Linked DNA regions of Homo sapiens: region 2 is reported to be linked to region 1. Evidence: microRNA targets listed by miRTarBase, many of them from high-throughput screens and not tested one by one. Region 1 holds a microRNA gene; the other region holds the end of a gene's coding sequence.

What was found. The annotated mature microRNA hsa-miR-4796-3p reads UAAAGUGGCAGAGUAUAGACAC and lies in region 1 at 2,910-2,931, shown strand. An mRNA with a match to its seed (bases 2 to 7 or 8) in the 3' UTR can be bound and repressed. Matches are read on the target gene's strand: a 7mer-m8 pairs with bases 2 to 8, a 7mer-A1 pairs with bases 2 to 7 and ends in A, and an 8mer does both.
Region 2: the mRNA of KLF6 is a reported target of hsa-miR-4796-3p. Seed matches in the 3' UTR shown: 7mer-A1 at 3,003-3,009.

The regions. Positions count from the first base shown.
Region 1 is chr3:114,741,110-114,746,382 of GRCh38, reverse strand. MIR4796 (microRNA 4796) reads left to right here and starts at 2,858; the gene lies at 2,858-2,938. All of the region lies in intron 5 of ZBTB20 (zinc finger and BTB domain containing 20), which reads left to right.
Region 2 is chr10:3,775,095-3,780,094 of GRCh38, forward strand. KLF6 (KLF transcription factor 6) reads right to left here. Exons shown (of 4, transcript NM_001300.6): 4 at 902-4,496. The coding sequence ends at 4,445. Among named protein-coding and RNA genes, the nearest start is that of KLF6, 7.6 kb to the right of the region's middle.

The sequences.
Region 1 (5,273 bases):
AAAAACAAAAAACAAACAAACAAAACACACTACAGTAGAAAAAGGGGAATGGGGGAAAAAAGATTAAGCACTTAACATGTTGAGTATATACCCAAAGCAGAAAACTCAGTGAGTGAAAAACTTGTCCTTCAAAAGAAGATACTTTCTATCCTTCACCAGTAACACAGAATTGATAGTCTGGTAACAGAAGCCTTTTAAGTAGGGGTGGTGGGAAGAACACTGTCTTCCCAAAGGCTTCAGTAGGTATTCAATTGCCCAGGGCAATCTGATCAGCATGTCCTTGTTTCTAGAATTGAGTAAACCAAATCAGGATGAACCGCACATGGTTTAATAGTTAACTTTTAGAACAAGGGGCAGGGAGATGCTTTTACGCCATAGGCCCAGTGTTCATTCCAATCTCATTACTAAAGTCTGTTCTGAGAGCATTTACAGCTTTCCGGAGAGTCTGAGTTTGGCTGAATCCTGAAGATGGAAATGTAGCTTAATGACCTCCTTGTCCTGGAGTCTCCCTTAATACAGGTGAATTTTTGTGATAAATCATTCTCTAGAATCCAAAGTATTGATTGATATCATCATTATTACTATTATTATTATGATTAGCCCTTTCTTATGTGGTTAGTTCTCTCTCCATTTTCCTATTCTAGGAATAAGTGTAAGTTTTGTGAATATGCATTTGCTCTCTCTGAGTTTCTTTGAAACAGTTTATGTCTTCTTTCAAGTTGGAAGTGTGAGATATTTTGAATTATAGTTGGATGTGCAAGTCCAGTCCTGCTTTTTAGAGATCAGGAACAGAAAAGGTTCTACAAACAATCCTTTATTTGACTAAGAGACAGAACAAAGGAAGGGAGATAATTGTATCTTTGGGTGATTCAGTCTTCGGTGCTTAGTATTGATTGACTAGTGGTCTCTTTATCCTGGCCTCTGCTTTCTCAGATTCCTAAACAGACTCTTCCCTTATGTGTAAGAGGAACTCCCTCTTAGCATCTTCTCAGTCTCTTCCAAAGGAGAGTAACCATGGACGAGGATTTAGCATATCTAATGAATGGGCATTGGGTTATCAATAAGTATTAAGGGAAAATAACAACAAGAAAATTGAGGGCAGATTCATGGTAAGCATTGTTTGTGGAACTGTTGGACGGGTCTGGTGTGTAGTTGATGTTGTTGTTCTAAACTGAGCAGCAACAGTAACAACAAACAACGAAATCCTACTTCCCACTCTCTTCTTCCTTTCTATTCAAAAACAACCATCACTATCACAATAGCCCAGTAGACAAAATAAAAGCATGTCTATATTTTTGGTATATTACTGTATGTCTTAACTGTAGTTTCTCTGCCACACATTAACAGAGTTATTTATCCCTGATGTTTTTCAAAGATCACCTTTGTGCTTGTCTGCATAGCTGTTCTAATAGTGTTACTATTGTCTCTTCTTCATTATCTCCTTTTATTTGAGTTCTTTTTTTTCACGTATGCAAAGAGGCTCTTTTTCTAGGCTCTTTGCACACATTCACCATTGCACTAGGACAGATGGGTGTTTTTCTATATAATGCCTTTTAAAGTGAGAAGACAGCAAGAATAGATTTTGAACAATATTTTACCAGCATTATTGAAAAATTAGCTACTGTATATTCTATATACACACACAGCAGCTGCATAAAATGCAAATTCTATTCATGTCTGATCTCTTCTGCATTTATATGGTGACTATCGCTGTAGCACCTAAGCACTTTATGTTATTTCCTCTTATTATTATTTACCACCTGATCATTCCAGAGTGCTTTTTACAATCAGAGAATTTCATTAACAACCCATTCCCTCGCTCTTTGTTTTTCAGCACCCTTGCATGTAAAAGTATCAAGCATCTTGGTAGCTATATCAGATAAATTACAGTAAAAAGATAGAGGGCTTCCGACAGGAGGGCAGGGGAAAAAACACCCTAAAGCATCTCCTAAAATTTGGTTTGTGTTTTATGGTATCCAAATAATGTTACAGAAGTCTGTAATTTTAGTGAAAACCAAACCACTAGATAAGCGCTTTTATTTATCATGGTTTCCACCATTGCAATAATCGAAAGTGTGAGGTGAGGAAGAGGAATACTGTCTGCACTTCATAGATAGAGAGGACTGGGCAATTGCACTTTCTTCTCACTGTGGAAAGCTTGTGATTCTTATTGACTCTTGAGCTGCCTTTAGCCCAGAAGTATAGAAGTCAATCTGTTTTAAAATCCAAAAAGCTACTGTTATATTTTTTAAGCTAAGAGGATAGAAACATGTTTATTAAAAGGTTCATTGTGATTATAGATGAAAGTGCGTGGTTGGTACCTTAACAGTTTGATTGAATAAAAATCAAGTTCACACTGGGGTTTCCTTCTCAGCTCTACTCCTTGCTTTCTCTTTGACTCCAAGCTAATTGCATAACCTCTGGTTGACTTGTGCCTCGTCTACACATTCAAAGTGAAATTCAGAAATGAGGTTATTATCTAACTAATGTAGGCTGTAACATTATTTCTCTAAAATATCTCTGTGAGAGAATTTTGAAATTTCTGATTTCAGTAGATAGTAAAAAAAATAACAATTTTATGGACCATCTCCTTTTATTCTTAGACAACAACCCCATGGAGGTGGATACATCAGAGTCAGCTGGAGGTGGTCAGAATTATTTGCAATGTTTGGTAAGACACAGATTACTGCCCCTTCACCAAGTTTCTGATTCAGAGTCTAGGGTAGGGACTGATAATTTCACTTCTGATATGTTTCCACATGATGCTGATGGGGACCACATTTTTTGGATCACTGCCCTAAGGATGATATGGCTTAAGTACATATAGAAAAGGAAATCAAGGCTCAAGTCATGGCAGTAAATTTGTGTCTATACTCTGTCACTTTACTTTTGGCCTCAAGTCATTGCAGTAAAGTGGCAGAGTATAGACACAAATTTAGGCCTTCTTCCTACTACAGACATTTTCTTTTCACTTCTACTAGAGATATTTTCACTTTACTTTTATGTTTTGAATGACTGTCAGTCGTCTTGAGATCCTAAGTGAAAAAGCATTGTAAAGAGTGGTAATTGGATCTTTTCCCCTTAGATCCAGTGGCTACCCTATTGCATTTGTGAAAGGAGAGGAGGAAGCCATTCCAAATTTTAGTGATTAGCTTTGGTATGAACAGCTTTTAAGGCCAGCTTTATACTTCCCTTTGGGGATGAGAGTAATAAACATAGTCTTCTTTGTATTCATTCATCATAGCCTGTACATAGATATGAACAGGTTTCTCTTTGATGGACTTATGACCATGTTCTGCTGTGACAATGCTTTGTAAAAAAATTGTCACTTGTATATTACTTCTCCAAAAATCATAATAAAAAAAAGATGTCAAAGTGAACATGATGGGGCAAGGGAAAAACCACTGCAGACAGACTGAGGACACTTGAGTCTTGTACTACCTCACATATTGGCACAGATATACTGACCTCCATGGGAGACACCCAACAATTCTTCTTTACCCAAGCTATATGTTACAGTCACCCAGAAAGGCTTTGAAACAAACACCCACATCAGGGCCCAGGTACAAGAAATTCTGATTTAATTGTTCTGGGGTAGGGTCTGAGTATCAGTAGGTTTTAAAAGCTTGCCAGGTGCTTCTAATGTGCAATCAGGGTTAAAAAACCACTGGCCTAGTGTTTAAGGGCCTGGGTTTTGAAATCAGACAGATCTGAGTTCATATCTTGGCTCTTTCACTTAGTTACTATGCAACCTTGGACAAGTTATTTAATCTCTGTCAGCTTTAGTTTTCTCGTATGTAAAATGAAAATAATAGCACTTGTCTTGTAGGAGATCTATGAAAATTAAATTAAATGATACATTTAAATGTTTGACATCGTACCTGGCTTGTGGTATGGATCTACTACACATCAGCTGCTGTTGCTATTATAATGCACCTCAGTTTCCTTATCTGTAAAGCAAAAGAGGGGGCACTTTAATTTATGAAATGGAGGACAAATATCTCAGGATTTCGTATAGATACTTGTCTGTCACCATATCCACAGTATCCTACCCGGCTTCATTTTTGCCGTTCTTACTTCCTACACATATTTATTATTGTTAGGTACAATCATTGACAGGCTCAACCTTTATTATGATATTTTACCAATAAATACTTCTCTGCCCTCCCCCTTCCCACCAAGATTAAAAACTTGAAACATACAACAAATCCACTTGTCATATGGGGTAATGTAGGTATGATGGGTGGTTGACCTATGGGTTTAAGAAATAAAAGGCAGAGTTTTGTAAACATGTCTAAAAACTAACATGCCCCTATTCTTGATTGCTATTTTTTTCTGCCATCACTCACTCTAAGAGTTCAGTTGTTGGTAGCTTTCATCCTAGAAAAGGAAAATTGTTCATACTCTACTTCTTAAAGATTATTGCAATTTGTTAATTCCCTTCATTTTCCCATTTTCCCTGATTTCCTTCTGTATGTCTTTTTTTCTTTTCTTTTTTTTTTTTTTTACAGTCTTGCTCTGTCACCCAGGCTGGAGTGCAGTGGGGCAATCTTGGCTTGCTGCAACCTCCGCCTCCAAGGTTCAAGCAGTTCTCTGCCTCAGCCTCCAGAGTAGCTGGGATTACAGGTGCCCACCACCATGCCCAGCTAATTTTTTTTTTTTTTGTATTTTCAGTAGAGACGGGGTTTCCCCATCTTGGCCAGGCTGGTCTTGAACTCCTGACCTCATGATCCACCTGCCTCAGCCTCTCGAAATGCTGGGATTACAGGCGTGAGCCACCGCACCGGCCTCTTCTGTATGTCGTAGAGAAGCCTTAGTACACAATGAGTAGGTAACAAATTTTTAAAGCAATAATGATTTCATAAGCCTATTTGCTTATCTCCACCAGTGTTTAATAGGTTATACTTTTCATATATTTTAATATCTCTGATTTTAAAAATTAGACTTTCTAAAAGTCTCCTTGTATCACTCTTAACATAGAAATTATGTTTTTGGGTGGACAGAAAGAAATTATTTGACTGTCCAATAAAAGTACAGATGGTTCCATTTTTCTTGACTCATCTCACAGCACACATTAGTCAGGTCACATGCCTATTTGGGAATTTTTGTAGTACTAGGTCACTTGCCCAGCTTTGGGGCACATAAAAGAATATTTTCCTGGCTTTTAAGTTTGTGGATCTTACACTGTGCCTGGCATGGAGATAGGAAGGACATTTTTTTCCATTAAGCTTTTTCACTGTGTTTTGACAGGAAAAGTTGAAACAGAGTCCCTA
Region 2 (5,000 bases), not on the chromosome of region 1:
ATTGTAGTGCTATCGAGAATGCTGGATCCACGTGACCTAGCCCTATTTTAGCAATAAGCAAACTGAGGGTCGGTGTAGCTCAGCAAATTGTCCAAAGCACACAGCTCGTTCAAGCTAGAACATTTCCTTTCTTCTTTTAGCTAGGTTTCAAAAAATTTGTTAAGCAGACTGAAATTTTTTATACTTCTATAAATACCCTAAGGTTGCAGCCGATTCCTTGCACGGCAGCGCTAACAGCCTTATTTGAACATAACTTAGCTGTCCTGCATAGTCTTTCCATGACAAAGTGGTCAAGTCTTAATAGTAGCCGCGAATGACTATCAAGACTTTAAATTTAGACTGTACATTCGGGGCAATCCAACCATGAGTCATGTTGACATGTGCTTGGGGATAGAACACGCCCACGAATCCCGGCAATAATGTCGTCTGCTCCCCACGTCCTGCCCTACCACAGCTCCCTCCAAACTGCTGACATTTTTACCACAGTTATAGAAAGAAAATTAATGAACATTCCTAGTCTGGGCACACATCTTAACATCCATCCCCTCTCCAATTATAAAATTAAAAGCAACCACTGTAAATTCCCCACGTTTAGCAAAATGAAGAGCTATGGAGAGGAGTGAGCGCTTAAGCCACCTCAAGTAGAATATCCTTGTTGTCACACTAAGAAGCTGGTTCCCACGGAAACACATTGATTTACCCCATTGCTACTGATTGGCTTAGTGTAATCTGAAAATGGACTCCTACAAGGATCAAATTGTCCTGGTCCACACAGTAAAGCAAAGCTGAGATTACTTGCTAAACATTGCTCTAAAAAACAAAAGGCTGCCTATTTTCAAACAAACTCTACATTTAATGTATCTTATTGGCCTTAAAAGAAAAAAAAGAGATGTAACTCCTCTGGCAGTGATGTCATCTTTTATTTTCTGCCCTCCTTGACTGAGAGTGGGCTGAGGTTGTGAGAACAGCCCTCTGGCCTGGAGTCCCTCTGCCTCCTCCACCCCTCCCAGACATGCCTCAGCCAGGTGTGTGGCAGGGCTGGCTGGGGAAGGTAGGCCCAGCTCTAGCTGCGGAACTGGAGCAGGCTGTGGAGGCACAGAAGTGGCAGGGAAACACTCAAGTTTGTCGTTGTGCAGGTGCCTCTGCAATGCATTCCCTGGCTTGAGCAATGGAAGATCAAACCGGCATGGTTCCCTACTGTGCCCACAGCCGGGGGGTTGTTTTTGTCAGTCCTTGGAGAAGAGTATTTGATGCATTCAGGGAGGGCAATGTCAGGCTCGCTGACATCCTCTCCAGCTCCCAGGACAGGCTGTGGAAAGAGGAAGGGGCTGAGGTCGGTGAGTTGTTCTCAGGGTTGCTCAATGAAGATTTGCCCCCAGGAGGAAGCCAGGGTGATGAATGCAGGAGGAATCTGTTCCAACAACCCCCTTCCCCCAAAAAAAACAACCAGACTCAAGATGCTGATAAGAATTCTTTTATGTTATTCCAATAAAAAATACATTCATACAGAAATATAACAATCTTGCAAAAAACAATTTCAAATAAAATCTTGTAAAACAAAATTTTACAAAAATCTTACAAAGATTCTTTAGATAACAGGGTGCTTCCAAAAAAAAAAAAAAAAGAAATTTCACTAATAGAAATTTTTTTTTAATTTCAAGCAAAAAGTTTCTGCTTGATTGAGGCTCAGTTATCACCTGAACAGAATGTACTTCTTTATGTACGTGCTAATTATGAAAATCACAGGCATTGACAGGTACGGTACCCAGCCCCACCCAGGCAAACAGCTCCGACATGTTTCGTAAGTGAGACAAGCCAGTGCAAGTTTTTTTTTTTCCTTTTTTTTTTTTTGTCTTTTGCTTACCTTCTTGCTTAATGGAATTGTTATGGCTAAGCACATAGAAGGCCAAAAAAGGAGTTTTCCAAACCCAGCAAATCAAGTGCTTGGATTCTGAACTGCCAAAAGAAAACTGCACTTCCCCTCTTAAGTAAAACGAAATGAGTTTCTTAGGTAAATGTATTCATCAGCCCAGATAAAAAAAAAACCAGTTATGTGAGCGTTAGTCACTGCTCATTTCCAGGAAGATCAAACAAAATACCAGCCCAGCCAGACTCACATGTGTGTATATATATATAAAGCAAAGAGCCACACCCACAAGCCAGCAGCTGGGTGAAATATCAGCTGTCCACGCCGTGGTATGCCAATTCGGGGAAATTACTCCTTGGAAAAACTGGAAGAATCTACTTGCTGGAAAAAATAGCTTCATCTGCATAAAAAGTGTTCTACAAAAGAATCCCTGTGGTTAGCTTACTCTTAGGTTAGATCTTCTAATAAGGCTGAAATTCAAAATCAAAACCTTAGTGTGTCCGAGTCCAGCCTGGGTTCCAGCATTCTGTTCAGGCCACTTCTGAACGGCCGAAGGTGCCCCATTCCAGACCTGCCCATTTGATGGACAGAGCAGACAGCCCGGAACAGATTCAAGCAAGAAAGTCCTCCGCACATCGTTAAATTAAAGATAAAGCCTCTATAAAAGTTAGGTTATGGTTTTCATTTTTACCTCCTTTATGGCCATTTTGAAATATTTCTTCACAGGCTGTGGAATTTTCTAGCTAAACATTCTAGTTTCTCCTTAAAAAAAATATTTATATATTATCTATATATATAATATATATATATACACACATACACATACTGTACACACAAATATACATACACAAGAATTCTGCCCACTTTTTTAAAAAAGTAGTATACTTTCTGTATTACCAACAGATAGCTAGACAGATATGTGAAACTTGTGCCTTTTAAGCAAATACATTAACATTGGGGGTTTTTTAATACTTCTGTATCTTTAATATGTGTGAAAATGTTACATATTAAATACAGCCGGTGTGTGATCTATACAATTGTTGTGCAAGGTCTATATGAAAGTCTCAAGGTGGCAGAATTGGTCAGATTTTTCCATTTTCCTGTTTTCCATTTTAACACTGACAGTCAAGTTGCCTAAAGTGTTGAACAAATACTGACATGTAAAGGGAGTTTCACTCTATGTCTTTGTGAAGGAGGACCTTAAAGAGATTTTTTTTCTGTATTATACGTTGATACAGTACACTGCCAGGTGAAACAAGAGCCTTAATAAAGCATGCATCGCCCACACCCCTGTATGAGACCCCCACAGAAGGGATCGCTTGCGTAAGGCACCATTATGAAGGTCAACAGTGCATTAACAGCTAGAAAACCAGAAATTAGTCCTCAAGGCATAAATAAGAGAAACATAGCTGCATGAGAAAACAGTTTCTAAGCGTTAGTGGTTTTATCCACCCAACTGAGAAAAATTTTAGGTTCTTAAGTCTAATGAAACATTAGACCAGCAATTCCCAGCCCCAGCTTTGTGACACTCAATACGTGTCCAATTTCTTCTAAGGGCATCACAGAATTCTCCAAAAAGTTAATTCAAATTCAGAATCATTTAAAAATAATCCTGTGTTGCACAATGCCTTTCTGGAAGGGGAGTGTTACAAACTTGGAGGGGAAAAAAAATTGTATATTGCCAGGCCCGGATGGCTAGGGGGTCACTGTATTAGACAGATTGGATCTTAGCTGCTCATTAACTGGAATCAGTATTGCAGTCCTGACTTAAAAATGGAAAAGCATATAGTTCCCCAGACCATGCATGACTTTTTGTATTCTAAGGAAAAGTTAAATTGTTGTGTTATATTTGTAAATACACAGCTTATACAATGGGTTACAAATGAGCTATGTTGTAGCGTGTAAAACAAGCTACTTGACACATTGCACATTTAATAGCTGCACCAGACACTAAGAGTTCCTCTCACACAGAAAAGGGGGAGAGAGGCTCTCCCTCCCCACACCACTCGCCACTCTGGGGTCCTGAGTTCCCACGCCCACCCTCCAAGATTTTCCTTCTTTTTTTGTTTTTGTTTTTTTGTTTTTTTGATTTTTCTTTTTTTTTCTAAGGTGCAGACACCCCCTCCCCCCAAGGAAATGATTGGTGGTCATCTCATCTCATGGTATACTCCTTACACACAAAACATTCAAACTACTTTTTTTCCATCTCTTGCAGTCTTGCTAACCACAAGGAAAAAAAGTTGGCCTCATCATACGGTCAGTAATAGATCCTCAACATACAATCAACCCAACCATTAGCATTCTCAGTGTGCATGCTCACGGCAAAGGCTTAGGCGCCGCTCGGAAGGGCGGGTACCAGTGGCGAGTCCAGGGTCACCCACATACCATGCACCACGGGTGCTATGCCGCTTCTTACAGGACCTTTTTAGCCCTCAAAAGACCTTCCAAGGAGAGGCCCTGGAGGCAACTGGGTAGGGTGCAGAACGGCATGCTTTGGCTGGAACACGCATCCCTCCTTCCACGGCCGGCTCTCAGCCTGGAAGCCTTTTAGCCTACAGGATCCACCTCTCTGCTCCCTCAGAGGTGCCTCTTCATGTGCAGGGCCAGGTGGTCAGACCTGGAAAAACACCTGCAAGGGCAAATCAGAAGCACAGAAGAAGTTAGGTTCCCATCCCTTGCCAGTGTTCTGGACCAGCGCCCTCACCTCCCTGCCCTGCCCAGCCTAACCCCCTGCAGGGAAAGGTGGGATTCTCCTCCCAAGCCTCATCAGTGTCTTCAGGGACAGGAGATACCAACTGATAGGAATGTGAATTAAGAATGTCCCCCACCAGTGGCTGGAGGTTCTTTGGAGAATCTGAACGGACTTCATTTCTAATTCTTCAAATATGAAAACTGTTGAAAGGCCAATCTCCAAACATATCAATAAACTGACTCCAATGTCAGGTGTATGTGGAACAGTTCTTCCTAACCATGGACAATGAGCACACCAGAAACTTTCTAAAAAGTCCCAGGCTTGAAAAGAAATGTTCACACATAGGAAACTGCATGCCTTCCTTCGAATGTGCCCTGCACACCTACTCAACCCTGGTCATCACATTCCCAAGGCCCCACGCTCCTTGCCCAGCATTGTCCT